4 linked regions of the Homo sapiens genome follow. The protein of the gene in region 1 purifies or fractionates together with the protein of each later gene. This does not show direct contact. Each region holds a gene or a part of one and is shown in the gene's direction. Other genes may lie near its edges.

The links.
Region 2: the proteins of ZBTB44 (region 1) and UBA3 purify together in Homo sapiens (affinity purification with mass spectrometry; 2 studies listed by BioGRID and IntAct, with this or other methods). This does not show direct contact.
Region 3: the proteins of ZBTB44 (region 1) and NAE1 purify together in Homo sapiens (affinity purification with mass spectrometry; 2 studies listed by BioGRID and IntAct, with this or other methods). This does not show direct contact.
Region 4: the proteins of ZBTB44 (region 1) and KLHL21 purify together in Homo sapiens (affinity purification with mass spectrometry; 2 studies listed by BioGRID and IntAct, with this or other methods). This does not show direct contact.

Annotation. Positions count from the first base shown.
Region 1 is NC_000011.10:130,227,905-130,234,930, reverse strand, and holds part of ZBTB44 (zinc finger and BTB domain-containing protein 44), read left to right. Parts: intron 1-657; coding exon 658-775; coding exon of another isoform or gene 776-940; exon of another isoform or gene 941-1,548; coding exon 1,549-1,575; coding exon of another isoform or gene 1,576-1,622; 3' UTR 1,623-1,623; exon of another isoform or gene 1,624-3,215; 3' UTR 3,216-7,026. UniProt on the Homo sapiens protein: May be involved in transcriptional regulation.
Region 2 is NC_000003.12:69,056,363-69,063,388, reverse strand, and holds part of UBA3 (NEDD8-activating enzyme E1 catalytic subunit), read left to right. Parts: intron 1-251; coding exon 252-407; intron 408-1,209; coding exon 1,210-1,312; intron 1,313-1,461; coding exon 1,462-1,575; intron 1,576-6,079; coding exon 6,080-6,133; intron 6,134-6,573; coding exon 6,574-6,610; intron 6,611-6,695; coding exon 6,696-6,777; intron 6,778-7,026. UniProt on the Homo sapiens protein: Catalytic subunit of the dimeric UBA3-NAE1 E1 enzyme. E1 activates NEDD8 by first adenylating its C-terminal glycine residue with ATP, thereafter linking this residue to the side chain of the catalytic cysteine, yielding a NEDD8-UBA3 thioester and free AMP.
Region 3 is NC_000016.10:66,820,962-66,827,987, reverse strand, and holds part of NAE1 (NEDD8-activating enzyme E1 regulatory subunit), read left to right. Parts: coding exon of another isoform or gene 1-8; intron 9-1,207; coding exon 1,208-1,311; coding exon of another isoform or gene 1,312-1,320; intron 1,321-1,404; coding exon 1,405-1,465; intron 1,466-3,102; coding exon 3,103-3,133; intron 3,134-4,387; coding exon 4,388-4,459; intron 4,460-4,681; coding exon 4,682-4,761; intron 4,762-6,428; coding exon 6,429-6,538; intron 6,539-7,026. UniProt on the Homo sapiens protein: Regulatory subunit of the dimeric UBA3-NAE1 E1 enzyme. E1 activates NEDD8 by first adenylating its C-terminal glycine residue with ATP, thereafter linking this residue to the side chain of the catalytic cysteine, yielding a NEDD8-UBA3 thioester and free AMP.
Region 4 is NC_000001.11:6,599,870-6,606,841, reverse strand, and holds the start of KLHL21 (kelch-like protein 21), read left to right. Parts: upstream 1-3,972; 5' UTR 3,973-4,024; coding exon 4,025-5,045; intron 5,046-6,972. UniProt on the Homo sapiens protein: Substrate-specific adapter of a BCR (BTB-CUL3-RBX1) E3 ubiquitin-protein ligase complex required for efficient chromosome alignment and cytokinesis.

The DNA of each region.
Region 1 (7,026 bases):
TTTAGTATATTTTACTGTCCATGTTGCCTGTGGGGACCAATAATTGAACACGTTTTGAGGATTATCACATAACCAATCTCAAGGCATTCATTTCCAAATTCTTTATTAGTATTTTCATATACCAAATGTAATAGCAGGATACACATAAATTACTTTCTACATTTCCCAACTTTATAGTAGATTATGTATCAGGTCATTTATGCATAAGGACTTAGTTTCTTAACTAACCTATGTCAAGTTTAGTAATACAAAGCTAGGTTTATATATCTCTTACTCAATGTATAATCAAGAAAAGTTTAGCATTAAAGTTACTCAGATGATCTTTGTTTAAGTGAGCATGCTACATTTGTTTTGTATATAGAAACTCCTCTACATAGAACAAGAAAGGCTGTTAAGGTGTCCAGAGTTATAATGAAAGTGATAATTAACCTGATGTATTGGTGGTGGGGAAGATTGATACATTTTGGTTTTAATGGATGTTTTGGTTCATATTTAGGAAAGTTTATAAGTTGAAAGTTCCTGAGTTTTAATCTTCACTGAACAATTAGTGAAATGAAGAGTCCCAATTTTGTTGTATAAATCAGAGCTTTTTACTGTTGCTTATCTATTACTGGTTTGAAAATTAATTCCATATTTCATCCTTTGCCTCTTATCTAGTGATTTCCTAGTACCGGACTACTTAAACCAGGAACAAGAAGAGACCCTTGTTCAATATGATCTTGGAGAACACGGTTTTGAAAGCAACTCCTCTGTTCAAATGCCTGTCATTTCACAGGTCTCCTCAACCCAGAATTGTGAAAGCACTTTTCCCTTGGGGTCTCTTGGTGGGCTGGCAGAAAAAGAGGAAGAAGTGCCAGAGCAGCCAAAGAGCAGTGCTTGTGCTGAGGCAACCAGAGATGACCCCCCAAAATCAGAGCTGTCTTCTATAACTATTGAGTAGTTTTGTGATTTGGCTTCAGTTTTGTTTTTTGGAAAGTGCCTGTGCTTGGTCTTGTACATTTAAATTTAATTTAATTTTTTAAACAAAAAAAGCCGGGTGGGAGGGAGGGGGAGATTGGGAAAGAATTTCCCTTTTTACTTTCTGAGCCCTGAAACTGATTTTATTTTTCCTAACTGAGAGATTGCTTCTGTAAGTACACAATAACATGATGTTGAAACAGAAACTATGAGACTTAAGGAGAACTGGTTGACTTAAAACATATACCAGTTCCTTCTTCCATTGTTAAAAGTAGGCTAACAACAGATCATTAGCTAGAGAGGAAATCAGATGATTATTGACCTTCTTGAGACAAGAGGGTACATGAGAAACTAATTACTAAACAGCTTGACAAATGGCCTGAGTAGATACTTACTGCTGTACACAGGATGTTGTATAATATTTTGTAAAGCCTGTTGTTTTTGGAAGTATTTATGGTAAGCTTTCTTAAAAATTATTATGGTAAATACTTCTGAAATCCGGCGTACTTTTCTTTAAGCTTTGTCATTTCTGTTATGATTTTTCATGGTGAAATTTTGGTACTGAGATGGGCATTCTCTGTACCTTTATAGTACCACTCCAAAGGCAAGGAACCATGATTGACAACAGTCAAGCTGTGGATGAAATGACCAGGAACGGAGAATGAAGTATGTAAATCCCAGCTTCATAGGAACTCTTCTCATACTGCTTTTCAGATTAAAATTGCTGTTTACCTGGTCTCCGAATGTAATGCCTGACTGTGTCATTGCCCGGATCAGTTTTCCCCCTGCCCCATCAATATGTTCTCTTGCATATATTGGCGTGCTGCCATATAAAGTAAAAATACTGGAGATATTCTATATTTTATATATAGGTTTATGTGTTGTTGGGGATGTTTTCATTGTGCTCTTTTGGACATAATAAATAATTCTCTATTGAGGCTACATTCTTTTTTTTTTTCTTTTTTTTTAAAAGAATGGCATCTCACTCTGTTGCCCAGGCTGGAGTATAGTGGCTAAGTCATAGCTCACTGCAGCTTCGAACTCCTGGGCTCAGGCCATTCTCCTGCCTCAGCCTCTTGAGTATCTAGGATTATAGGCATGCTCCACCACACCTGGTTAACTTCATTTTTATTTTTTGTAGAGATGAGGTCTCACTATGGTGCCCAGGCTGGTCTTGAACTCCTAGACCAAGTGATCCTCCTCCTTTGGCCTCCCAGACTGCTGGGATCACTGCACCGGCCAAGGCTGCATTCTTAACCCAACTAGATTGTTTACTGAATCCCATATGACAGCGATACATTGTCCTTACATATTTATTTTTAGACATTGCAAAGTTATTAAAAACAGTTAACTATAGTTTTTACACAACGTAGGCAACAATGAAGAGTATAGACTGTAAGATTTTCATCTATGACTCATAAATCTGGGAGAAAAAAATTATTAAGACTAATGAGAAACTGAAAACCTTAAACTAATGAATATTATTTCTGCTGCTAAAAATATGAAACTTTCTGGTCTGTAGTTGAAATTTGTATGATCCTCTAGACTTGGGTATACTTTTCATCTGGTGCCATTAAAGCATCTCTAATATTGATCCTAAATATTTGTAAGTCCATGAGCAGTGAACTTTGGAATAAGTTTCTGTGTAGATACCCAAAGTTTAATAATTATGAGAGCACCTGATTTGATAGACAGAAAATACAGTTCTTTAGTCAAAACACAAGATCTGAATTTTGTTCAGGTGCTAGACCATACTAAATGTATATATTTTTAATTATAGTGATTTGTTTCATTTTTTTAGATTGGCTAATTCTGTAATTTTTTCCCCAAAAACATGTGAAGAAAGGAAAAGTAAATTAAATTCCTTAGAACTGTTTTAGGTTAAGATTCTCTGTGTCTGCCCATATTCTGCAGTCCTTAACTTGTTTTCAACTCTTTACCTCACTCATGAACTTGTTTTTACCCATTTGCTGCCAAACATAGGTGTGTTCCCTTCAGGAGAATCAGCATATACAGGTTATGATAGGCTCCCACCATTTATGCTTCTTCACTGATAGGGTTGCATTACTTTCTGCAGCAGACTATAATACTTCATATAGTACTGCTGTGTCTCAACTGGAAAGGTCAGGAATTTTAATGTTACGTTGTGGTCTTTGAAAACTGTTAGGCCTAGCAATAGATAAATCTCAAAATTAATTTTAAAATCTGTATTGACAAGAATAGGTAAAATTATGACCAGGAATCATTGTTACCCTTAGTTCCAAGAGGTGGTTTTTGAAAGAGCAAGAGGAAAGAAAAAAGAAAAGAAGGAAAGAAGAATAAAGAAGAGAAACGTGTAAGAATGGTTTGCAGATTGATTGGTTAAAAGTGTTTTTAGCACATCCCCAACCCTGAAAACTTCGCATTAAGAGCCAAGCACAATGTTGGTAGCTCCAAGATATTCTGACTGTGTTCTCAGAATGAGGGATTACCCATCACTGGGTATTCCTTCCCAAGTAGAAACTTTAGATTTTCACTGGTAATACACATTGCCAAGTTTTATGGGAAATCTGAATATACTGTGAAAATGCATATCTGGTTAGTTGTCTGCTGCCCAGATCTTATCAATACCAGTAACTAACCAGTATTTAACATAAAATGATACAAATAAAGGCCTTTTTCTATTTCAGTGAGGGTACATTTTTCTTGATATATATGTACTTTAAGGATATTGGATCTGTTTATGGATCTGTTTTAGGAAACAGATTTGCAAGGGATAATTGTATATATAGTAGTATTTAGGTTTATTTCAAATTCATCTTAGGGATGCCTAGATGCATAATTTTTACCAGGACATATTGAAAATATTGCAAAGAGATAGCCAGTTATATTATCCCATTCATTAGAAATTACCAGTGTAACTAAACATAAATATTCCAGTTTAGAGTGCTTAAACGTAGCTATCTTTCTTAAGGCCAGGAGGGTAACTTTGTGGTATCTAAAGGGCTTAAATTTCAGAATGCAGAATAAATTGCCTTTTTAAAACCAAGCATTTTGTACAAGCTTTTATTTTCAGTTTTTTAACTACCAAATAGGTGTGATGTACTTTAGAAGTAAACAAAGATGTTCACCCATGATAATGGATGTTAAAGCTCCTGCAGTTGTTCTTTTCGTGTTTAAAGGGTATATTCTAATAGTGGAAGCATCAAACATGTCAGTGATTTCATCTCATTCAGAAATAAAGAGATTAATATTGGTCTTTATTTTTTGGCATTTTAAGTTTTATATAAATGGATGCAGATGGAGATTATCACCCACAAATATATTTAAATGGATTTTTCTTAATTTGAATTTCAAGTAATCTTTTTATTTCAAGTAATTAGTTACGCATTTAGTTACATTGCCAGTTTTTTTTTTTTATCAATTTCAGTAAGACAAAATATACTAAAATGTTTAAATAGCCTCATTCAATCTTACATTTTGACATTTCAGCAATCATTCTGGCTTACAGTAATTAGATCCCCTGTTACGACACATGCCCTTTGTTCTTAATAACTAGCAAAAAAAAAAAAAAAAAAAAACTTTCATCTTGTTAAAATACTTTGCCAAATGAAATAGACTAGTCAATACATCTGATGTCCATAATTATTGGTAACTCAGTTACCTTCTAACTAATAGGCTGGTTCAGGAGACTCTCCCAGTTTATAAATGGTTCTCTTGGGAGCCTTTGGAAGCTGTATTAAATCTTTCAGTCTTTTATTTCTAATTTTTTCTCTTAATCTAAATAGAGGCCAGTTATCTATTTTATCAGCTTTTATTCTTGAAGATTCTCAGATTATGTTTTAGTCCCTTTTAGCTTTAATAGTCCTTGAAAAATACATTACTGTATAATGTGGCAATTCTGTAACAGAGACTTATTACTTGAATGAATAATCCTAAAATTTTAATATTTTAGCTGAAGTTTGAGATTTGTGGAATGAACAAAAGAATTAGAAACTTTCATATGTTACTTTGTTTCAGTCATCTGCAAAGTATGAAGCTGTAATTCTGAAATACACATCCAAGTGAATGAGAATTAAAAATTTTCTAAATATTAATACTAACTGGGAAAAAAAAACTAGTGTGAAGTTTACAGTTAGAAGAAACAGACCCAAAGTTGCCAGAAGGTAATAAATAAATGTAGTTTTCACTGTAAGTAAGTTATTGACGTAAGATGCTTTATTTGTAATATATTTAGATTTTGAAAGTTATTGAGAGATGAATGTATAAAAGCTAAATTTTCTTTTCTGAAGCAGTGAAACAAAATTGGGGTAACAAGGAAGCTCTGTTGTGGCAAACATGTCTATGAGGAATATTAAAACTAAGCATACTCCCACAGGCTTTAAACTCAAACTATGAACATTTAAATTAAGTTGTTCCTTATTTTGCCTATACCCATTTTTATCTTTCATTGTCGTTTTTGCTTGACAGTATGGTGACAGAGTATTTTTATTTGGAAAGTCCTCAGCAAGATGAATTAGCCAAAAGCAATAATGGTTCAGATTAAACAATAAAGTGGAATTGATTCAATCCCAGGCTCAACTAAGAACAGTCGCTCTCTGGATGTTTCATTTTAGACGATAGATAAGTTGAGATGTTGTAATATTTATGGGGGGTTAAGCCTGTGTCAGTTATGGGATGAAGACTTGTAGTACCAGTACCATCAGTGGTCATACTTTTTTTTAACTTTTTACTAAACTAATACAGTTAGACATTTCCACTCTATCGTGATTATATTTTTATGATGGGAAAATAAAAACACTTCCATGTTTTTATAAATAGTCTCTGCAAAGATTTCAGATGTTATTGGTATCTCGGTTTGGCAGTATCTGAAAAATTGAGATTGTCTTTGAAATGTTTGTGCTACTTTTACTTAAGTAAACCCCCACTGTGCAAGACCCAGGCCGGCTTCAGCTAATACCAAGGTTTCTGTGTGCATAATAGTTTACAGAGAACTTAAGAGTAAGGACTGCGGATTAAAAACAAAACTTTTTTTAACTTTAAAATTTTTAGTTTTTGTTCAAAGTACCTGGTTTATAAAGTCAAATTCTTTTATTAGTTCCTTTCTCGTTTAAATTGACTGATGTTGCTGATGAAGCTTAAAGTCCCAGGCACGGTTGTGGCGATATACTGATAAAATTGGTGCCTAGTGGTGGGAGGAGCTCCAGTGTCAGGACTTTTATTAAAAGGCCCTTGTTTTCCCAAATGCCAATCTAGCCACATTTAGATTTCATTATTCAATAAAACAGATGAAAAATCATCCCATAAATGAATGTTGAGGTTACCAAAGTACATCACCTGCTGAGGAAGGATAAATCTTCCTGCTTTAAGGGAGCCCTGTCATCTCTCCTCTTAATGCACGTTTCCCTTGGTATTAGTGGAAGCTGTGTTCAAGATGGGAAGCCTTTCCTGCAGTTCTTAGAAACACCTGCTTTCTAAGGAGAGCCTTTTCTAGGATTAGCTTATGTGTGTTTTCTCTAGGCGATTTTTTATTTCAGTTACCAATTTAATTTTCAAGTTGACAGATGCTGTGTAAAGTCTCTCATAATGAGAGTAGTCCATTAAATTGTTGAAAGTTGCACTGCTTTTCATCTTTCAGGTACCTGAAATGAGTGACATCAGGTATTTGGAAGGAGTAAGATCATAAACTGTATTCATTTTCTTCCTTGTACAAAGTGATGACTTCTAATGCTTATATCTCAAGGTATTTTTTAAAAAAGCAACGGTCCCTAATAGAGTAAAATTTGGTTTTGGTCCAAGTTCCCAATAATGTATTTAATGTTTCTGTTGTTTACTGGTGCCTCCCGTTGCATCAGGTAGAGATTGCCTGCCTCTTTGTAGGGCAGCCTTGTGGCACCTTATGTCCAACTTGGAGGATAGTATATGGCTTCTTTGTGCCTCTACTATCTTTTCAAAAGCCATTTTATAAAAATCCTAGGTAGCCTATTTTAATATTTAAATATATATATTTGTGAAAGAACTTTTAGAACAGACCTTTTCTTTTTACTTTAAAATTCCTGTATTTCCATTTTTAAGAGTAAATTTAATCTC
Region 2 (7,026 bases), on another chromosome or scaffold:
TCACATCCCCAAAATTAGAATTGATATATTTTTGAAAAATCAGAGTTTAATTTTTAATTAAGTATATTTACTTCATTGTTTATTGCCAGTCATTGGTTTTCAGGTGAAGACACAAATTGTTATTATAATCCCTTGATTTGATACATTGGTATTCAATAGCACAACCGACTCATAGGATTACTTGAAAGCATACTTCTTCTTTTGAATTCTTATCCCCTTCTCCTTTAAAGCCCTTCAAATTGTTTTCCTAGATATCTCTTCTAAATTATGAAGATGGTGTCTTAGATCCAAGCTCCATTGTCCCTTTGATAGATGGGGGGACAGAAGGTTTTAAAGGAAATGCCCGGGTGATTCTGCCTGGAATGACTGCTTGTATCGAATGCACGCTGGAACTTTATCCACCACAGGTAATCAAAAAAGCACCTGCATTTCTTTTATAGTATCTTGGCATGGAATTAGGGATTAATTATTAAGTCTAGTTAATATTTAGGATTGTTAATTAGAAGTGGCCGTATTTTAAAAATTACACTAAGAAGAAAGATAAAATATGAAATTCTGCTCTATTTGAGGAAAGATATGAACCGAGTACATTGTTTTGATACTATTCTGCTTTCATAATTTATTTGTATTTTTTATTTGGGGAGTAGGTATCAAGTAGAATTACAAAGTTGTATATTGATGTCAAGCTGTAATCTATGTGGTTTTCACCTGTATTTATTTCAGGGAAATAAAGATACCAGGGATAAGAATGATCTTTCCAAGGATGGGGCTTTTTGGTTTACATATCCACTTTAAAGAACACTTGAAATTTTGAATAATAAATGTAAACAATTTTATGAGTATTCACTTGGGATTCACTTAACTCTGAACTTGCTTTTGTTTTGGTTTGCTTTATACTTAAATATTAGGTAAAAATAACAAGGTGTTCATATTTGAGAAAATCTGTTCAGTATTTTTCTTCTCATAGTCTAACAAAGCTTAAATTTTATACCTTGTAAATGTAGGGCAAACCTGTCTTTACAGGCAGTGCAGCCTAAGTGAAGTGACTCAGTTAATCTGTATTATAGTTTGAGAGGCATTTTTAATGGTATACAATATTTTGAGTTGAAACAAATTGTATGAAATTGTTAAGAACTAGATCATAACTGGAAGTTGCATTTTAAAATAATTCGTTTAAAATTCACTGAAAAGGACAAACTGTGGTTTTAGGTTAATTTTCCCATGTGCACCATTGCATCTATGCCCAGGCTACCAGAACACTGTATTGAGTATGTAAGGATGTTGCAGTGGCCTAAGGAGCAGCCTTTTGGAGGTAATAAACCTAATTTAATAATCTAGAATTACATAAAATACATATTTTTTCTATATTATTCCTTTGGATAATTTCATTAAAAACATTGTTTTGTGATTACGTATTCCTGTCTTCTCTCTCTCTCTCTCTCCCTTTTTTTTTTTAAACAGAAGGGGTTCCATTAGATGGAGATGATCCTGAACATATACAATGGATTTTCCAAAAATCCCTAGAGAGAGCATCACAATATAATATTAGGGGTGTTACGTATAGGCTCACTCAAGGTAAGTCAGCAAATTGTCATGAATTATGATGTTGGGATGACTTAGGGCTGGGATGCTTTCAGGAGAATAATCGATAAGTGAGTTTAGACAGTACCATCCACTTGAAGTTCAGTAAAGGTACCATGTAATTCATACTACTTATTAGCTAGGGGGAATTTAATAAAATTATTGAATCTTACTTACTTAGGCTATAAGTCATCCAAGTCAAACTGTCCATTTTATCTTCCACTGAATTCATCATCTCTTAGAGACAGTCTATTTCACATTTGGACAGGACTGTTAGACAAATATTCTATATATTGAACAGAAATTGTCTTCAGGTCAGCTGCGGTGGCTTATACCTGCAATCCTAGCACTTCGGGAGGCCGAGGCAGGCGGATCACCTGAGGTCAGGAGTTCGAGAGCAGTCTGACCAACATGGCAACACCCTGTCTCTACTAAAAATACAAAATTAGCTGGGTGTGGTGGCACATGCCTGTAATCCCAGCTACTCAGGAAGCTGAGGCAGGAGAATCACTTGAACCCAGGAGGCTGAGGTTGCAGTGAGCCTGAGATTGCGCCACTGCTTTCCAGCCTGGGCAACAAGAGCAAAACTTCGTCTCAAAATAGAAATCGTCTTCAGTTTGGTCTGACTGTTGTCCCAGTACTGTATACAGTCTAATTCCCTTTTAAGTAATAGCTTTTAACATATTGAGGACAGTGATCACATCCTTTGCAAATTTTTATCAGTGCCATAAACCTCCCTAGTTAGTTCCTTTAACCCTGTATTAGTTCATTTTGCTTTGCTATAAAGGAATATCTGAAACTGGGTAATTTATTCAGGAAAGAGGTTTATTTGGCTCATGGTTCTGCAGGCTGTGTGAGCATGGCAAAAGCATCTGCTTGGCTTCTGGTGAGACCTCAGGAAGCTTTTACTCGTGAAAGCTAAGGGGGATGGCAAGGCATGTCATATGACGAGAGGGAGCAAGAGAGAGAGGAGGGAATACCAGGCTTCTTTTAATAACCAGCTCTTGCGTGAACTTAATATCACAGGGAGGGCACCAAGCCATGCATGTGGGATCTGCCCTAACGGTCCAAACACCTCCCACTAGGCCTCACCTCCAACACTGGGGATCACATTTCAGTATGAGATTTGGAGGGGACAGATATCCAAACTATATCCAACCCTTTGATATGTTGTACAGCTTCAGGTTCTCATGTTGTTTTTCTGTAACCATATTCCAGCTATCCATATTGGTTAACTGGAATATAGTTAGAGAAAACAACTTTTCCTAATTGTTCAGGCCAACATGCAGCATTATGGGACTGGTCTTAACTTTAGATAATAGACTTCTGATAACTGATGCAGTCTTAAAGGAGAGCAGGTATTTATGTTGTTGTTTTTTTGTTTACATTGATGCTATACTTTGGATTCTTTGATGTTACTAGCCACTGAAAGCTGGATGTTTTGTCCACATATGCAATTGCTAAGCCACATCTGCCTATTATAAACTTGGCAGTTTGGGGAGTGTCTTTTTTTTTTTGTTTTTCTTAATATCCAAGTATAGGTCCTTACAAATGTATTCTTAAAATTCAACCTGTTTTTCTCTCTTTATATGTATTCTGCCAACTTACCTGGTGTTTCTAGCTTCATTTCACCTGTTTTGATAATTATATCCTTTATTTCTTTTTCAAATAATTGATGAAAATTTTTAATAAGACTGAACTCTCTGAGAACAGACATCTGAATCATACTTCTGGCCAGGCCCTTTTAGGTTTATCTCATTCTGTTCATCAGACCTTCTTGGTACTTTGTATTTCTTTATCTTGTTCACAAGGATGTCATGAAAAACCTTTCCAGATCCTCTACTGAAGCCTAGGTATGCTATCTTTTGCATTTTCCTGAGTTGCTAAGTTAGTCATAGTAGCCAAATGAGGCTACTCCAACATGATTTGTCTAGTAACCAGTCATGCTCAATCATAGTGATCAATGTTTCCAATCTAGTTATAGTTTCCTTTTTTAGAATTTTGCCCAAGATCATTACCAGGTTCACCAGAATGAGCTTTGTCTTCTTTTTGAAAATCTGCCATTTCTCTCCTGTGATTATTTCCTTACATTTACTGATCTAGTAATGTCATTTTAAAATTCCATTTATACTTACTCCTTGTTGCCCTCTGCATTCTCCCTACACGGACCTGCTTTGTGTTCCTTGAACACACCAAGTTCTTCTGTACCTTAGAGCTTTAATACTCCCGAGTTCCTACGCCGGGGATGGTGTTTCCTTGGATCCCCTCAGGCTGGCTCCTCATCTCTTAGGTGTCTGCTTAACCAGTTTTCCTAATCATTCAACCTAAAATGACTTCTGAGCCATTCACCATTCTATTTTTTTTGGTAATTGCTCAGAACTGATTAATGGTAGCCTCATTCTCCTATGCAAAGAATATTTCACACTTAAACTATCTTACATCCTTGCCCCAGGACCAGGACCATTGCCATTGCTGTTTACAAACAGCTTTTTCTTCAGGTAATTGCATGGCTGGATCTCTCTCATGGCTTAGGTTTCAGCTCAAGTTATCACCTCTCCAAGGAGGCCTTCCCTGACCATTCTCTCTAATGGACTGCATCCATCATTCTCAGTCTAACACATACCTCATTTTCTTCATAGAACTCTTCAATATCTGAGGTGTTCCAAGTATTTACTTTTGTGTTATCTCCCCTATCAAAATGAAATCACTATACGAGCAGATACTTTTTTTCATTGTTACTATGCACAACACCTAGAACAGTGTCTGGAGCATGTGTTACACATATTTGCTAATTGTTAGAATTAACAAACGAATTCAGTGTGTTCTAACCAGAAACTGTAAACTCCCCATTTTAATATGTAGTCTCATCCATCCTTCTTTACCTTTTACCAGGGCTTGGTGTGTACTTTCTAGGCTGGTGAATGAGGGCCTCAACAAGGAGTACAGAAGGAGAATTGGAAGTGAAGTTGCACAAGCCAGTGGTTCTATCTATTCTATGATTTTTCCCCTTGTTCTCAGTATAACAGAAAGTTGCCTTTCTGCCCACTCTAGCTTTTTTTGGTCGAAGGGCAGGGGTATGGGTGGCAGGGGTTGGAGAAAGAGGGGAGTCCTCATCATTTTGGCAATGTTCTTACTGGGCAGTGTCTCTTACACGCTTCACTGTTTGTGTCTACCACTTCCTCCTTTCAGTACATCCTGCTACATGTGGTTCAGTGGAGAGCTTCCAGTTTAACCATCATGCAGTTTATCTCTTTTTAAATTTCCTCTTCTCCAAAACTATAGAGAATCATATGGTCACAGTCAACTTTTTAAAAAAGCTTTCCAGCCTTCGTAACTGTCTTTCTTTCATGTCTTCTTAGCTACTTGCTGTTTTTCCTTAAGTTTTTGAAACCTGACTATACTTGGAGTCTTGGGAACACATCTTACAGTGTTTCCTCACACTGTGAGATAAAATGGCTACTTTTTCTTGAAGTTTTTGTCTTCTAAAATGAACAATTCAAATATAGTTATAAAATGGAGTATTTATTTTGTACTTTTAAAAAATGGTTTAAGGTGAGGCTTTGTTTATTCCTAATATGTGAATAATACTGATGTGAAAAATGTGAGTCCCAGCACTTTGGGAGGCCAGGGCGGGCGGATCACAAGGTCAGGATATCGAGACCATCGTGGCTAACACGGTGAAACCCCATCTCTACTAAAAATACAAAAAATTAGCCAGGCGTGGTGGCGGGCCCCTGTAGTCCCAGCTACTTGGGAGGCTGAGGCAGGAGAATGGCGTGAACCCAGAAGGCGGAGCTTGCAGTGAGCCGAGATCAGATCACGACACTGCACTCCAGCCTGGGCGACAGAGCGAGACTCTGTCTCAAAAAAAAAAAAAAAAAAAGAAAAATGTGGGGTTGAAGTAGAGAACTGTATTTAATATTTTGTGTAGCCTCGGTTGTAGAGTAAAAGATAATAAAGGGCAGCTTTTCTTTTTTTTGAATGTTTGTGAATCAAGTGACTGAAGCTGTTACAGGAATAATTAGATAACACTTATTCTTCATGGTGTATCAGTTAATATCTGTGTTCATATGCCAACCCCACCTCTTGCTAAGTATATAGCTGTGGATAAATTACTAAATTTCTCTCAGTCTCACTTTTCTTATGTTTAAAATCAGAGTAATTAACATGAAGATGTTGTGAAAATTAAATAATATTTAGTCTTTACATTGTGCCTGGAACATAATACTCTAAATTGTTAACTATTATGATGTTATTGTTTCACCTTTCTATAGCACTTACTTGAGAGAGTTTTCTTTGCTACTGTAGCTTAAGATTCTGAATTTACTACAAAGTGATGGGGATGTGAAAGATTGTTTCATGGTTAAATTTATTTTCTGGCTTGAAAGTCTGAAAAATCAAGTTTTAGAAAATGGTATTTAATAATCATGCCTTCTAATTTAAGAGAACTCTTTTATTTTAAAGAAATGACCATATTTTAATTGATATGTTTTTTCAGGGGTAGTAAAAAGAATCATTCCTGCAGTAGCTTCCACAAATGCAGTCATTGCAGGTGAGGAAGAAAAGGCCATCACTTAGTTTATTTTGCTTTCTTTAGTTTTTGACGTTGCTGCAGCTTTTTTGTGTTGTAGGAATTTGATATCTTCTTGGATGGGTTGTGTAACTAAGCTGTCGAAAAAGAACCAGTTATTAGACTTTGCATATTTTTTGTCTTACATTATGTCTTAAGTTACCTGCAGTAAAGAGACGTTTTAGTTCCATATGAAGCAGGCCATTTATTAATCTGATAAACAAGAAAAACATGTAGTGTTACTCTATTACATGAATCACACAAAACAATGTAAAATTTGTTACTGTCTCAGTTTTTAAAAATTGGAATATGTATTTTTTAATGAAGAGCCAATGTAAATTTATCTGTTCTGATTTATAACTGACTTTTAACATGCCTAATTTCCATTGAGTTAAAGCACCTGTATTTTCTCCTCCCTTCAGCTGTGTGTGCCACTGAGGTTTTTAAAATAGCCACAAGGTAATAGGTTTCATTTTTAATATGCATGTAAATTTATGTTTTGACTTGGTTTAATTATATAAAGATGAACATTTTTTCATTACAGTGCATACATTCCCTTGAATAATTACTTGGTGTTTAATGATGTAGATGGGCTGTATACATACACATTTGAAGCAGAAAGAAAGGTTAGTAGTATTAAGAACACATTTTTGATCATGCATATTTTGATTTTTAAATATTATTGGTTAGAAATTTGAACAAAGTCACCCATACATTTTCTAACTTCCAGAACTCTACTTATTATATATCTTTTGCTTTATAGCCTGAAATAACTCTATAGCGAAGTAATTTACAAGAAATGGTCTATTATGAAAAGCAGGCTTTAAAGCATAAAAATTTTTTTATAGGAAATATGCATGATTATAAAACAACCT
Region 3 (7,026 bases), on another chromosome or scaffold:
GAAGCCAGGTACAGTGGCTTGTGCCTGTAGTCCCAGCAACTCTAGAGGCTGAGGCGAGAGAAATGCTTGAACCCAGGAGTTCAAGACCAGTCTGGATAACATAGTAAGACCCTGTATCAAAAACAAAAACAAAAAACAAGGCAGTTGCTTGACATGCTCTGGAGGACATACTGACTACATAATAAGGGGTAATCTGCTTTAAATCAGGTAACAGGGAAGGCACATTAATCACTCTATTAGAATGTTCATTGGGTAATATACTTTAAAGCACTCCTGTAGAAGTTGATGTGAGGCTTTTCAGATGATAATTCAGTTTTCTTGGTAAAGCTTTTGCAGAAGTCACAGTAATAAGCCCTATGTCGAGATCTTAAATGCATCTAACTTAACTTAAATGCATCTAATATAATTTTTTTTTTTTTTGAGACGGAGTCTCGCTCTGTCGCCCAGGCTGGAGTGCAGTGGCGCAATCTCGGCTCACTTCAAGCTCCGCCTCCTGGGTTCACGCCATTCTTCTGCCTCAGCCTCCGAGTAGGTGGGACTACAGGCGCCTGCCACCACGCCCAGCTAATTTTTTGTATTTTTTAGTAGAGACAGGGTTTCACCATGTTAGTCACGATGGTCTCGATCTCCTGACCTCGTGATCCGCCTGCCTTGGCCTCCCAAAGTGTTGGGATTACAGGTGTGAGCCACTGCACCTGGCACATCTAACATAATTTAAGAATAAATGAAATAGGGCTGGGCACGGTGGCTCACACCTGTAATCCCAGCATTTTGGGAGGCCAAGTGAGCTGAGATCATGCCACTACACTCCAGCCTGGGTGACAGAGCAAGACTCTGTCTCAAAACAAAACAAAGAATAAATGAAATAGAAAACAGATGAGGGTTTAAATCCAAAGACGCTTTTTAAATGTTTGTTTGTTTGTTTTGAGACAGAGTGTCGCTCTTGTGCCCAGGCTGATAAGGGGCTGGAAGACCAAGTTTCTGTTTCTAATTTGACCCTCTCCCTCTTTTCCCCTAACCATTCAAGGCATCAACCTGAGTTCTAGATTACTGTATAATCACTATACTAATATCTGTTCCCGTCTTACCTGTATTCTGTGGTTATCATATCAGTCTATGCAAGGAAAGTTTAAAGATCACCATTCAAATAAGAAAGCTGTATTTTCATGAAAGTTTTAAAAACATCAAATTTGTGTCTGTTTTGTAGGTTGTGGGGTGATCATGGGCAAGAGGCTTTAGAATCTGCTCATGTTTGCCTAATAAATGCAACAGCCACAGGAACTGAAATTCTTAAAAACTTGGTACTACCAGGTAACGTAGGTTTGTGGTTGTGTTCTAAATATACTTCTTTAAGTTTATGACCTAGAACTATGTATTCCTGACTGACTCTGTTTTGGCTCTCAGGTATTGGTTCGTTTACAATTATTGATGGAAATCAGGTCAGCGGAGAAGATGCTGGAAACAAGTATGTTCTATTCTCTTCAAATATATTCACGTTAAGGAAGGCAAGGCCTGAGTCTTAGCTTCACCTCCTCAGTCAGGGTGACTCGACTCTCAGTGGAAATCATCCTTATGTTTGGGATTATGGTGAGGAAGTGAGATAATATAGGTAAAGTGCTAGTACAGCATCTGGCAAATAGGGCATTAATAAATGTTACCCATCATTACTGTCTTTATTGTTATTAATACAAAGGAGTAGTCGTTATTCCTTTATTCATGGAATATGGGCACTTCCTAAGCTCTTGTATTGATCCGTAGGTGTTAGCATATAATTAACAATAATGCCTGTTGTTTGTGATGTCTTTTAGGCTTAGTCTAGGGGTATCTCTCTTTACAGTGTCAACAAAAATGCTGTTTTAAAGATGGCCTGTATATTATTCTTTAAAGATTATATTTAGACTTTCAGAACATGCCCAAATTTGGATTTAAAGCTCACCTTTTCAGGGACTTGAAGTCTGGTATCTCTCATTGTGTTTGTCAGTAACAACAACAGTGAGTAAATATAAGGGAAACCAGCAATTAGTTCATATTTAGTTTTGATGCCTTTTCTTTGGATCGTAGTGCCAGTTTCTGCCAGGCACAGCACAGCTTTTTTATTGATATATACCAAGAAGTCTTGTTATCTTTGCTTACTTGGTGGGTTAGAGTAGAAAGTGATAAAAATAAGGTTTCTTCTTATGGAGCCAGTGAGCTTATACCGAAAAGTGGCATCCTGACTCTGATCAGCAGCCTCATATCTGGGCCTTGAGACATGTCAAGGGTATGTGTGGGAGGAAGCCTGAATAAATCTGTTACAGTTACGTGCAAAAACAAATGGTTCAATACACCGAGAGTGGTCTGTGGAACACCGGTTCTAGGGAACGATAAGAGCTGTTAAATGGGCCAATGGGTTCCATAGTGAAATTAGTTTGGGAAATGGATCAAATGAAGTAAAAATTTCTTTACCATAAGATTTTAGTATCACATGTATTATGTGTATTATGAATTTCCAAGAGGGAAATATAGTATATGGTGTTTCCCAAACTTTTTTTTTTTTTTTTTGAGACGGAGTCTTTCTCTGTCGCCCAGGCTGGAGTGCCGTGGTGCAATCTCGGCTCACTGCAAGCTCTGCCTCCCAGGTTCACGCCATTCTCCTACCTCAGCCTTCCGAGTAGCTGGGACTACAGGCGCCCGCCACCACGCCCGGCTAATTTTTTGTATTTTTAATAGAGACGGGGTTTCACTGTATTAGCCAGGATGGTCTCGATCTCCTGACTTCGTGATCCGCCCACCTCGGCCTCCCAAAGTGCTGGGATTACAGGCATGAGCCACCACACCCGCCGGTGTTTCCCAAACGTTTTTAGCCAAGGAACCCTTTTCTCTCAGAGGATCTTGTGAAATTCACATGCTGTGGTACACAATTTGGGAAAGAAACATTGATTTATTAGCCTATCTTTCTTTATAAGTTCCATCTGATTTTCTTCCTCCAGGAAGGCCATTACAGTCTGTAATCACAATATAGTTTGTTTTATACTGTGAATGAAATATGCATGCTATTACAAACAACTTTTCCTTTATAGTCAGTAAGCTTTACTTTTTTTTCCTTTATTCTGTTCACTTTAGTTTCTTCCTTCAAAGAAGCAGTATCGGCAAGGTAAACAATTAGAGAATATAGTTGGATGTGAGCATCTAATGATGCCCCTGTGTTTTGATTGCTTGAAAAGCTTTGACTTTAAAAACGTGTATTATTTCTCTGAGAAAAAAGTTAACTAATTTTTGTAATCTTGTAAATCTTCATATGTTTGGTAGTTTAAGAACTTAGAGGTGTACTGTCTGTGTTTATACATTGCATCCTGTATTAAAGCTAAATCTTGAGTAATGTTAATATTCATTCTGGTTAACAAATTTTTTTTTTTTGAGACGGAGTCTCGCTCTGTCCCCCAGGCTGGAGTGCAGTGGCGCGATCTCGACTCACTGCAAGCTCCACCTCCCAGGTTCACGCCGTTCTCCTCCCTCAGTCTTCCGAGTAGCTGAGACTACAGGCGCCCACCACCACGCCTGGCTAATTTTTTGTATTTTTAGTAGAGATGGGATTTCACCGTGTTAGCCAGGATGGTCTCGATCTCCTGACCTTGTGATCCACCCGCTTCAGCCTCCCAAAGTGCTGAGATTACAGGCATGAGCCACCACGCCCAGCCTAAAAAATCTTACAAAACCATGTTAGTCAACTTAGTGAAATGACTTTTAGCTTAGTGATTAACCACTCTTGTACAGGATTATAGATGTGGGTGGTTAGAGTGAGTCTGAACTTGATCCAGGATATCCCTGCCTGCTACCCAGAGTTTTTTGGTCATTTGCCTAATCAAAAAAGTAGAGTACAAGTAATGTCATTTGAGAACTCTGGATGATGATGGTTTTGCTCTGTTTTAAGTAATATTCTGTTGAGTCTTAAACACTAGGAGAAGCAGAATTGGCTGGGAGCAGTGGCTCACGCCTGTAATCTCAGCACTTTGGGAGGTCAAGGCAGGAGGATTGCTTGAGACCAGGAGTTCAAGACCAGCCTGGGCAACATGTCAAGACCCTGTCTCTACAAAATATTTTTTTAAAAAATTAGCTGGGCATGGTAGCACATGCCTGTAGTCCCACCTACTTGGGAGGCTGAGGCAGGAAGATTGCTTAAGCCTAGGAGTTCAAGGCTGCAGTGAGCTATGATCAGGCCACTATGCTACAAACTGGGCAACAGAGCAAAAGCCTGTCTCTAAAAAGAAAAAAGAAGGGAAACAGAGTTGTCATACTTATGCATGAAATTTGGATAGTTTTACAGTATGTTTGCCTGTTCCATAAATTGGGGGATTATATTGTGACCAAGTTTTTTCTAATTCAAGTTAAATGCTTTGTTTTTAAAAAGAACCGAGCTGAAGCTGCCATGGAATTCTTACAAGAATTAAATAGCGATGTCTCTGGAAGTTTTGTGGAAGAGGTATATATGTACACACATTATTATGTCTGTGCTGAAATACAATTTTTTAAATAATTCAAAGCCCCAGAAATTTAGAATTTTGAATCTTTGTGTCATTTATGATTAGTTGAATTGGAATTGTTGCCTCATTTGTTGTAAAATAGCTTAACTGTCTCTGCCATGTTTAATATGATTGTGAAATTGGTTTTTTTTGTTTGTTTTTTTCTTTGCTGTCCTGTTTAGAGTCCAGAAAACCTTCTAGACAATGATCCCTCATTTTTCTGTAGGTTTACTGTTGTAGTTGCAACTCAGCTTCCTGAAAGGTAAATTTTTATGTTAATATGTTTTTATTTTAATCTTATTAGATTTGCATTGTTTTATTTTCTTTGCACAGTCTATGATGATATGGTTTTAAAAATTGTTAAATTCTATAGAAACTTTAAATATGAAACTTTTTTTTTTTTTTTTTTTTTGAGCTTGAGCTCAAATTCCTGAGCTCAAGCAATGCACCCTCCTCGGCCTCCCAAAGTGTTGGGATTACAGGTGTGAGCCAACGTGCCTGGTCAAGAGTTTCAGATTTATGGCTGGGCACGGTGGCTCATGCCTGTAATCCCAGCACTTTGGGAGGCCGAGGCAGGTGGATCACGAGGTCAGGAGATTGAGACCATCCTGGCCAACATGGTGAAATCCCATCTCTACTAAAAATACAAAAATTAGCTGGGCGTGGTGGCTCACGCCTATAGTCCCAGCTACTCGGGAAGCTGAGACAAGAGAATCGCTTGAATCAGGGAGGTGGAGGTTGCAGTGAGCCAAAGATCGTGCCACTACACTCCAGCCCTTGTGACAGAGTTAGACTCTGTCTCAAAAAAAAAAAATAAATAAATAAATAAATAAATAAAAGAAATTCTTAGAAATCTTCCAGCATTGAAAAGATGAGGAAGAGAAAAATACTGAAACTTTTTTTTTTATTATTATTCTTTAGACAGAGTCTTGCTCTGTTGCTCAGGCTGGAGTGCAGTGGCACAATCTTAGCTCACTGCAACCTCTGCCTCCTGGGTTCAGGTAACTCTCGTGCCTCAGTCTCCCAAATAGCTGGGATTATAGGCATGTGCCACCGTGCCCGGCTAATTTTTGTATTTGTAGTAGAGACGGGGTTTCACCATGTTGGCCAGGCTGATCTCAAACTCCTGGCCCCAAGTCATCTGCCTGCCTCAGCCACCCAAAGTCCTGGGATTACAGTTGTGGAGCCACCAAGCCTAACCTTAGATGTGAAACTTTTGGAATATATTTAGAGCAGTTAAACCGAACATTGTTTTTTTGTTGTTGTTGTTTTTGTTCTTTGTTTGTTTTAGTGATTAAAAACTAGTTAGAATTGATTATTGAAGGCTGGGTGCAGTGACTCATGCCTGTAATTCCAGCAGAACCAGGCTGAGACAGGTTCAGATCACTTGAGCACAGGAGTTTAAGACCACCTGGGCAACATGGCAAAACCTTGTGTCTACAAAAACTACAAAATTTAGCCAGATGGTGTGCCTGCTTGTGGTCCCAGCTACTCAGGAGGCTGGGATGGGAGAATCACTTGAGCCTGGGAGGTCGAGGCTGCAGTGAGCCATGATCATGCCACTGCACTCCAGCCTGGGCAACAGAGAATTGGTTATTGGAATTGTTAGGGGTGTATTTGTGGGTTTTATATTTTTTCTCTATCATGGAAATGTTTAGAATTATCTTTCTTTAACGTTTCTCCTTAATATGACAGACTAAAGTTTCACATCCCTCTTGTCCAAAGATGTACTTTCTTTGAGACTGCAGCCTGTGGAAATGCTTGCTTTTCAGTGTGTTCTTGACCTGCTTATGTAAATGCAGTTATGTACCTTTGCATCTATTATTTAGTAAGAAAGTTGCTGTAAGACATTTTCATGTTTTGCATGTTTTCATGTTTGGCATATTTCCATTTGCTTATGTTCATATTTTGCTTTTTTTTTTTAAACAGCACTTCACTACGCTTAGCAGATGTCCTCTGGAATTCCCAGATTCCTCTTTTGATCTGTAGGACATATGGACTAGTTGGTTATATGAGGATCATTATAAAAGAACATCCAGGTAAAATTGTTGAGCATATGGGCTTACTATTGGTTGCTTTAGCTATAATTTTAGAAACTTGACAATTTAGAAAGTCAGTTTTAAATTACAAAGTAAATTTGTAGCAGCACATCTCTAGTTGCAGATTCAAAGTGGCAATCAGATTCAATAGGCTGCAATCTACTCTTTATGTAGCATTATAGAAGGATACAAAGCATGATATACCACAGGCACAGCTTCTTCATCTTATTAGGAGATCCAGCAACTATGCAAGTACCCAGCTTCTTTTGCCCCCTAACCCACATTGGGCATGTATGGCTGTGGAGAGCTAAGGAATGTGGATCACTCTGACCCATGAAGTTACACCACCTTTCCCCACTCCAGTCTTTTTTTTGTTTTTTAAGACAGAGTTTCGCTCTTGTTGCCCAGGCTGGAGTACAATGGCACAATCTTGGCTCACTGCAACCTCCACCTCCCGGGTTCAACTGATTCTCCTGCCTCAGCCTCCC
Region 4 (6,972 bases), on another chromosome or scaffold:
TATATATGGTAAGTGCATTATACCTTAGAAAACCTGGAATCTGAAAAAATCAGAGTGTATGATATGATACAAGAAAAGGCACAATAGCTGTGGACGTAATCAAGGCTAAGGAGTGTGTTCCTAAATATTCTTAAAGAAAAAAAAAGAATAACAGCTGCTCTTTTTTTTTTTTTTTTGAGACGGAGTCTTGCTCTGTCCTCCATGCTTGAGTCCCATGATCTCAGCTCATTGTGACCTCCGCCTCCTGGGTTAAAGCGATTCTCCTGCCTCAGCCTCTGGAGTAGCTGGGATTATAGATGTGCACCACCGCGCTTGGCTAATTTTTGTATTTTTAGTAGAGATGGAGTTTCACCACGTTGGCCAGGCTGTAAACAGCCACTTTTAAAATGACCTTAGGGTCTGGCATGGTGGCTGATGCCTGTAATCTCAGCACTTTGGCTCAGCACCAAGACTGGAGGATTGCTTGAGTCCAGGAGTTTAAGACCAACCTGGGTAACACAGCGAAACCCCGTCTCTACAAAAAATTTAAAAAATTAACCAAGCGTGTTGGCTCACGCCTGTAGTCCCAGCTCCTGGGGAGGCTGAGGTAGGAGGATCACCTGAGCCTGGGAGGCAGAGGTTGCAGTTAGCTGAGATTGTGCCACTGCACTCCAGCCTGGGCAACAGAGGGAGATCCTGTCTCAATAAAAAAGGTAACATGGCCAGACCAGGTGGCTCATGCCTGTAATCCCAGCACTTTGGGAGGCCGAGGCGGGTGGATCATCTGAGGTCAGGAGTTTGAGACCAGCCTGACCAACATGGAGAAACCCCATCTTTACTAAAAATACAAAATTAGCCAAGAGTGGTGGTGCATGCCTGTAATCCCAGCCACTCAGGAAGGCTGAGGCAGGAGAATTGCTTTAACCCGGGAGGCAGAGGTTGCGGTGAGCCGAGATCGCGCCACTGCACTGCAGCCTGGGTGACACAGCGAGACTCTGTCTCAAGAAAAAAAAGGTAACGTAATTTTAGTCACCTCTTGCTCTGTCTGCCTTAAATTAGAATTTAAATACCAAAATTAAGTTGTTTTTTAAAATAATAACTATTTGTTAAATCACATCACACATTAAATCACTTTTTAATTTGTAGCCTCAGAATGTTCAGGTAAATCACATTATCTTAAATTGCTTAGGCAATGGCCATTTTTGTAATTTTAATTTTTTTTTTTTTGAGATGAAGTCTCACTCTGTCGCCCAGGCTGGAGTGCAGTAGCGTGATCTCAGCTCATTGTAACCTCCTCCTCCCGGGTTCAAGCTTGAAGTGTTTGAACCTGGAGGCAGAGGTTGCAGTGAGCTCAGATCGTGCCAGTGCACTACAGAGTGAGACTCCGTCTCAAAAAACAAACAACATGTCATCTAGGTGGTTATGTTCATTTTGTTTTTGCTTGCCTGCATTCTCTTTCTGTACTACACGTACATTATCTGTTAATGTTAATTTAAGTTCAAAGTAAAATTAAGAATTCATATCTTGAGAAAAGAAGTATTTCATTGATAACCGGGGCCTACCAGGCATGTGAAACCATGTATATATATAGATAATTCAACAAAGGAATGTGGTGAGAAAAGAAAGGAACCGATTTAGACCTATCAGCTGTGTTAGGAATTTTGAATAACCTACTAACCCAGGCATGCTATTTAGCTCTTTCTTTTTTTCAGGGGTGGGGCAGGCAGAGTGGGAGCAGTGGAACAATGACAGCTCACTGTCATCTGGGCTTATGTGATCTTCCCACTTCAGCCTCCCAAGTAGCTGAGACTAAAGGTGCATGCCACCACGCCTGGCCAATTTGAAAACTTTTTGTTGAGACAAAATATTGGGTCCCACTATGTTGCCCAGGCTGGTCTCAAACTCCTGGCCTCAAGAAATCTTGCCCCAGCCTCAGCCTCCGCGTAGCTGGGATTACAGGCGTGCGCCACAGCACCCAGCTAATTATAATTGTTTTATTTTTAGTAGAGACAGGGTTTCGCCATATTGGCCAGGCTGGTCTCGAACTCGCTACCTCAGGTGATCCACCCACCTCGGCCTCCCAAAGTGCTGGGATTACAGGCGTGAGCCACGGCGCCTGGCCGAAAATGTTAACTTAATAAATTTTTTTAGGCATATGAATACATATAAATCAATTTGGGTCATACAATGAGTAATCTGATTTTTCGCTTTATAGCTCAAACATCTTTCCATTTCAATAAATACATCATTATTCTTCAAGGCTACATAGTAAGACTGAAATATGATGTTTAAAAATCCCTGTTATTGGGAATACAGAAAAACCGTACTCAATCCTCAACTATGGAAACATTATTGATTTAATCACTGGACTTACGCAAGATGGGTAAGCTGACCCAGGGGACGGGAGTTCTTTTCCCTACAAACATTCCACTTCCTGGCTACTCAGCCTTTCTTGTCACAAAGCCTGTGCAAGGAAGCTATTGGCCCTGCTCCTGGGCCCAGGAATGCTGCCGCTGCCTTGAATAGCTGTGTGAACAGTCCTTCTATGGGCAACAGGCGGCCCGCCTGGGTACCTGAATGTTTTCTGATTTGGGCCTGTGCTGCCCATGCTCACCCTGAAATTCAGACCAGATGCATTCTTATGGCAAAATGACGTGAAACTCTTAAGTAGAAGAGAAAGCCTGCGGTTCTCATTTCAGAGGTGGAATAAAAACAAAATGTCTTCTGGAAACGCTACGCGGCCCTAGACCTCGCTGGAACCAGGAAATGATAGCCAGCTCCCATGCGCGTGGCCTGCTCTGGGACCCACGTGGGCGGGCGCCTTCCTCAGGAATGCGTTCTCAAAGGCCCACCGGTGTAGGGGGGCTGGAAAACAGCACAAACCCAAGTGTTCTCTGCAAAGCAGCAGTCCTGGTGGTGAAATAGGGGTCTTTTCTAAAACTGAGCAAAGCCTACCTTCCACTGAGGAAAAAATGGCCTCCAAGGGAGGGCTCTTTTTCCCCTACAAGTGACATTCAAAGTGGTGCTGTGTCTATCGGAACTAAAATAAGGGCGATTCCTTCTTTCACCATTCCCCACCGCAGTACAAGTGACGGCGGGACTGTGCTTAGTGGCGTCATCTAGTTTCAAGGCGGTCTCCTATCTGACTTTGAGCCCTCGCTCTTTATACCCAGTTACCCTCTCGTGGAGTCCGAGCAGCTGCTTCAGGGAGGCCCGGGAGCCCCTAGGGCGGGCAGCCCCGGAGCCTGCAGCTGCGACGCAGACTCGGAAACTACAACTGCGCGTGAAGCCGACTAAAGTTAACGCCTGTGTGATTGAGTCAGAAGCTCCTTCAGGAACACAGGAGTGGGGCCGACTCCTGGAATCCGGCCCCGGGTCGCTTATAAATGCGCCAAGAAAAAAACGTCACCGAAAAACTTTATACGCGTTCTTGCTTTGGTCCAGAATGGTAAAAAGCCTATCCTTTGAGTGTGTCCCGTGATGGGGTTAACTAGCAACCCTTGAAACTAGTGGAACTCAAAAGCAAAACAAAAAGCCATTGTACCCAGCCGCCCCGGGACCTGGGCCGGCGCCCTTGGGAAGTCTGGCGTGAAAGGAGGGGTGGCTTTGGTTTCAGGGCCGAGCTCGCCTCTCCCGGGTTGGGTTCAGCAGCCGGGCCGGGTGGGTCGTGGGCAACCCCGGGAGGCCCCCGGTCCCGGCGCGCGGCGAGGCCGCCCTCGGACCTGGCACTTGTCACTCGCTGTCCCCGGCCCGGGCGTCAGCGGGGAGACGCAGAAGGGCGGAGGGAGGGAGCCGGCCGCGGACAGCGGTGACTCAGCCTGCGGAGCCGGGGGCGGGCGCCGCGCGGGGGACAGGCGAGCCCGCGCTCGCGGGGGGCGGTGGCGCCCGGCACAGAGGGGTTAAGGGGGCGGTGCAGACGTCTCCCCGCCCATCCCGCCCCTCGAGAGCCGCGGCGCCCCGCCCTATTTATAGCAGCGGTGCCTAGCGCGCCGCGTCTCTCCGCAGGCCCCGGCCGCGGCGTCCTCGACAACCTATCGAAGGCGCCATGGAGCGACCGGCGCCCCTGGCCGTGCTTCCCTTCTCGGACCCCGCGCACGCCCTGAGCCTGCTGCGCGGCCTGAGCCAGCTGCGCGCCGAGCGCAAGTTCCTGGACGTGACCCTGGAGGCGGCGGGCGGGCGCGACTTCCCGGCGCACCGTGCGGTGCTGGCCGCCGCCAGCCCCTACTTCCGCGCCATGTTCGCGGGGCAGCTGCGCGAGAGCCGCGCCGAGCGGGTGCGCCTGCACGGAGTGCCTCCCGACATGCTGCAGCTGCTGCTGGACTTCAGCTACACGGGCCGCGTGGCGGTAAGCGGCGACAACGCTGAGCCGCTGCTGCGCGCCGCCGACCTGCTGCAGTTCCCGGCCGTGAAGGAGGCGTGCGGGGCCTTCCTGCAGCAGCAGCTCGACCTGGCCAACTGCCTGGACATGCAGGACTTCGCTGAGGCCTTCAGCTGCTCGGGACTGGCGAGCGCGGCGCAGCGGTTCATTCTGCGCCACGTGGGCGAGCTGGGCGCCGAGCAGCTGGAGCGGCTGCCACTGGCGCGCCTGCTGCGCTACCTGCGGGACGACGGGCTGTGTGTGCCCAAGGAGGAGGCCGCCTACCAGCTGGCGCTGCGCTGGGTCCGCGCTGACCCGCCGCGCCGCGCCGCGCACTGGCCGCAGCTGCTGGAGGCCGTGCGCCTGCCCTTCGTGCGCCGCTTCTACCTGTTGGCGCACGTCGAGGCCGAGCCGCTGGTGGCGCGCTGCCCACCCTGCCTGCGCCTGCTGCGCGAGGCGCGCGACTTCCAGGCGGCGCGCTACGACCGCCACGACCGCGGGCCCTGTCCCCGAATGCGTCCTCGCCCGTCCACCGGTCTCGCCGAGATCCTCGTGCTCGTGGGCGGCTGCGACCAGGACTGTGACGAGCTGGTCACTGTCGACTGCTACAACCCGCAGACGGGTCAGTGGCGCTACCTGGCCGAGTTCCCAGACCACCTGGGCGGAGGCTACAGCATCGTGGCGCTGGGCAATGACATCTACGTGACGGGTGAGTGGGCCAGGGGCTGGGCAGGCTCTCTGGGGTTGAACCTCGCCGGTACGGGAGCCCAGCTATTCGCGGGGGAAGCGCACAGAGCCTGGAATCCTAGGGGCGCACCTGAGTCCAAGCTGGGGCTCTGGTGACTACATGTCTCTGGGCGATACTTTTAACCTTGAAGAAGGGCCCCTTGTGTGAGCCGGGACAAGTAGCTGCTTGTGGGTCTCTGTGCCCCGTGCGGCCGGGGCTGCCAGGCTGAGCCAACTCCGTGCCCAGGAGGTGCCTCCCCACTTGGTTGGAAGATACTGGGGCATTCACCCCGCACAATGGGTGCTTTCTTTTTCTCCTTAAGGAATCCAGGGACGGGCAGGAGGCCGACGCCCGGTGAGGCATCTGTTCCCCACAAGCCGGGGAATTTCTCCCTCCCTGCTGAGCCACACCGGGCCCCCTGACTCACTCTTTGTCACCCGGTGACAAGGTTCCCTTGGGCTTGCACCTAGGCTCTGTGCTCTGGTCACATGGTGTTTAGGCTGAACTCCCCGGAGCCTGTAAACATGGTCACATGTTAAGAGGTTTTCTTCCAGTTACTTGGCCCAAACCCCAAAACACTGCCGAGTCATGGTAGGCGGGTCCCAGTCCGCCTGAGTTTGGGCTTCTACGGTTTTTATTAAAGATAAATCCCAGTTCAAACACGAGGCTACCTCCTTTGTCGGGGTGAGGAAGGGCGGTCTCTGTGACTGCTATATAAGGAAAGAACCCACCAGGCAGGCGTGTGAGGCGGTTATCAGGCAAGGAGGTGGGGACTGGGATGTCACAGCTGCTGTGCCCAGCCTTGCATGTTCGCGAGAGAGCCCACTCTGGGACGTGCTCCGAGTTCCAGTGGGGCTCTGAGGTGTCAGGTGGGACAGTTGCTGGATTCTGTTGCCACAGCTTCCTTAGCCTGCTGCTCTGAGTCCAGCCTCTGCTGGGTTCTGCCAGAATCTGTGCCTCTTTCCAATCCAAGGTTGTCCCCAAGTTGATTGGGGACCGTGTCCCTCCCCTCTTCTGAAAGTCTGACCAGTGGCTTTGAGCAGATAATTTCTTCCCAGAACTGGCCACACTGGCCCCAGCTTTCTGCACACCCTTCCATAAATGTCCCAGCAGAGCAGTTAATCCCTTGGGTTTAGGCAGGTGGCTGGTTCATTCCTTTCAGCTGCCTTTCACACAGCTCCATGGAAGGGAGGAGGCCGGCAGAGCTCACTTCCTAAGAACAAGAACTTGCTTTTCTCCCTTTAGAGCTCAGGGCTGTGAAACAGAATGTCTTGTCCGCTCTGTCCTGTGGCGCCAGCCTGGGAGGCCAAGGGGTACAGCCCCCAGGATGCTTGGGGTCCCTTCATGTCCTGGGGTTTCTAATAGACCTGGTGTAATTTACGATTACAGCCAGTACCACTTTTTATTCTTAGCTTTTTATTGAAATTGAAAATACGGGCCGGGTGCAGTGGCTCTTTGTAATCCCAGCACTTTGGGATATCAAGGTGGGTGGATCACTTCAGCTCAGGAGTTCGAGACCAGCCTGGACAACATGGCGAAACCCCGTCTGTACAAAAAATACAAAAATTAGCTGGGTGTGGCGGCATGTGCCTGTTGTCCCAGCCACTCAGGAGGCTGAGGTGGGAGGATTGCTTGAGCCCAGGAGGTGGAGGTTGCAGTAAGCTGAGATCATGCCGCTGCACTCCAGTCTGGGTGACAGAGCAAGACTCTGTCTCAAAAATAATAATAATAATACAGGCAGAAGAATATATATATATATATTATACTTACACAGCTTCGTGGATTTTTCTAAACCAAACACAGCTTTGTAACCTGCACCAGAATCGAGAAGTGGCCTCGCAGTGTAGCGTTAGGTCTCTTGCTTAAAGCAGGAAGTGGGTTTCCGCTCATCTTGTCCTGGCAGAACCTT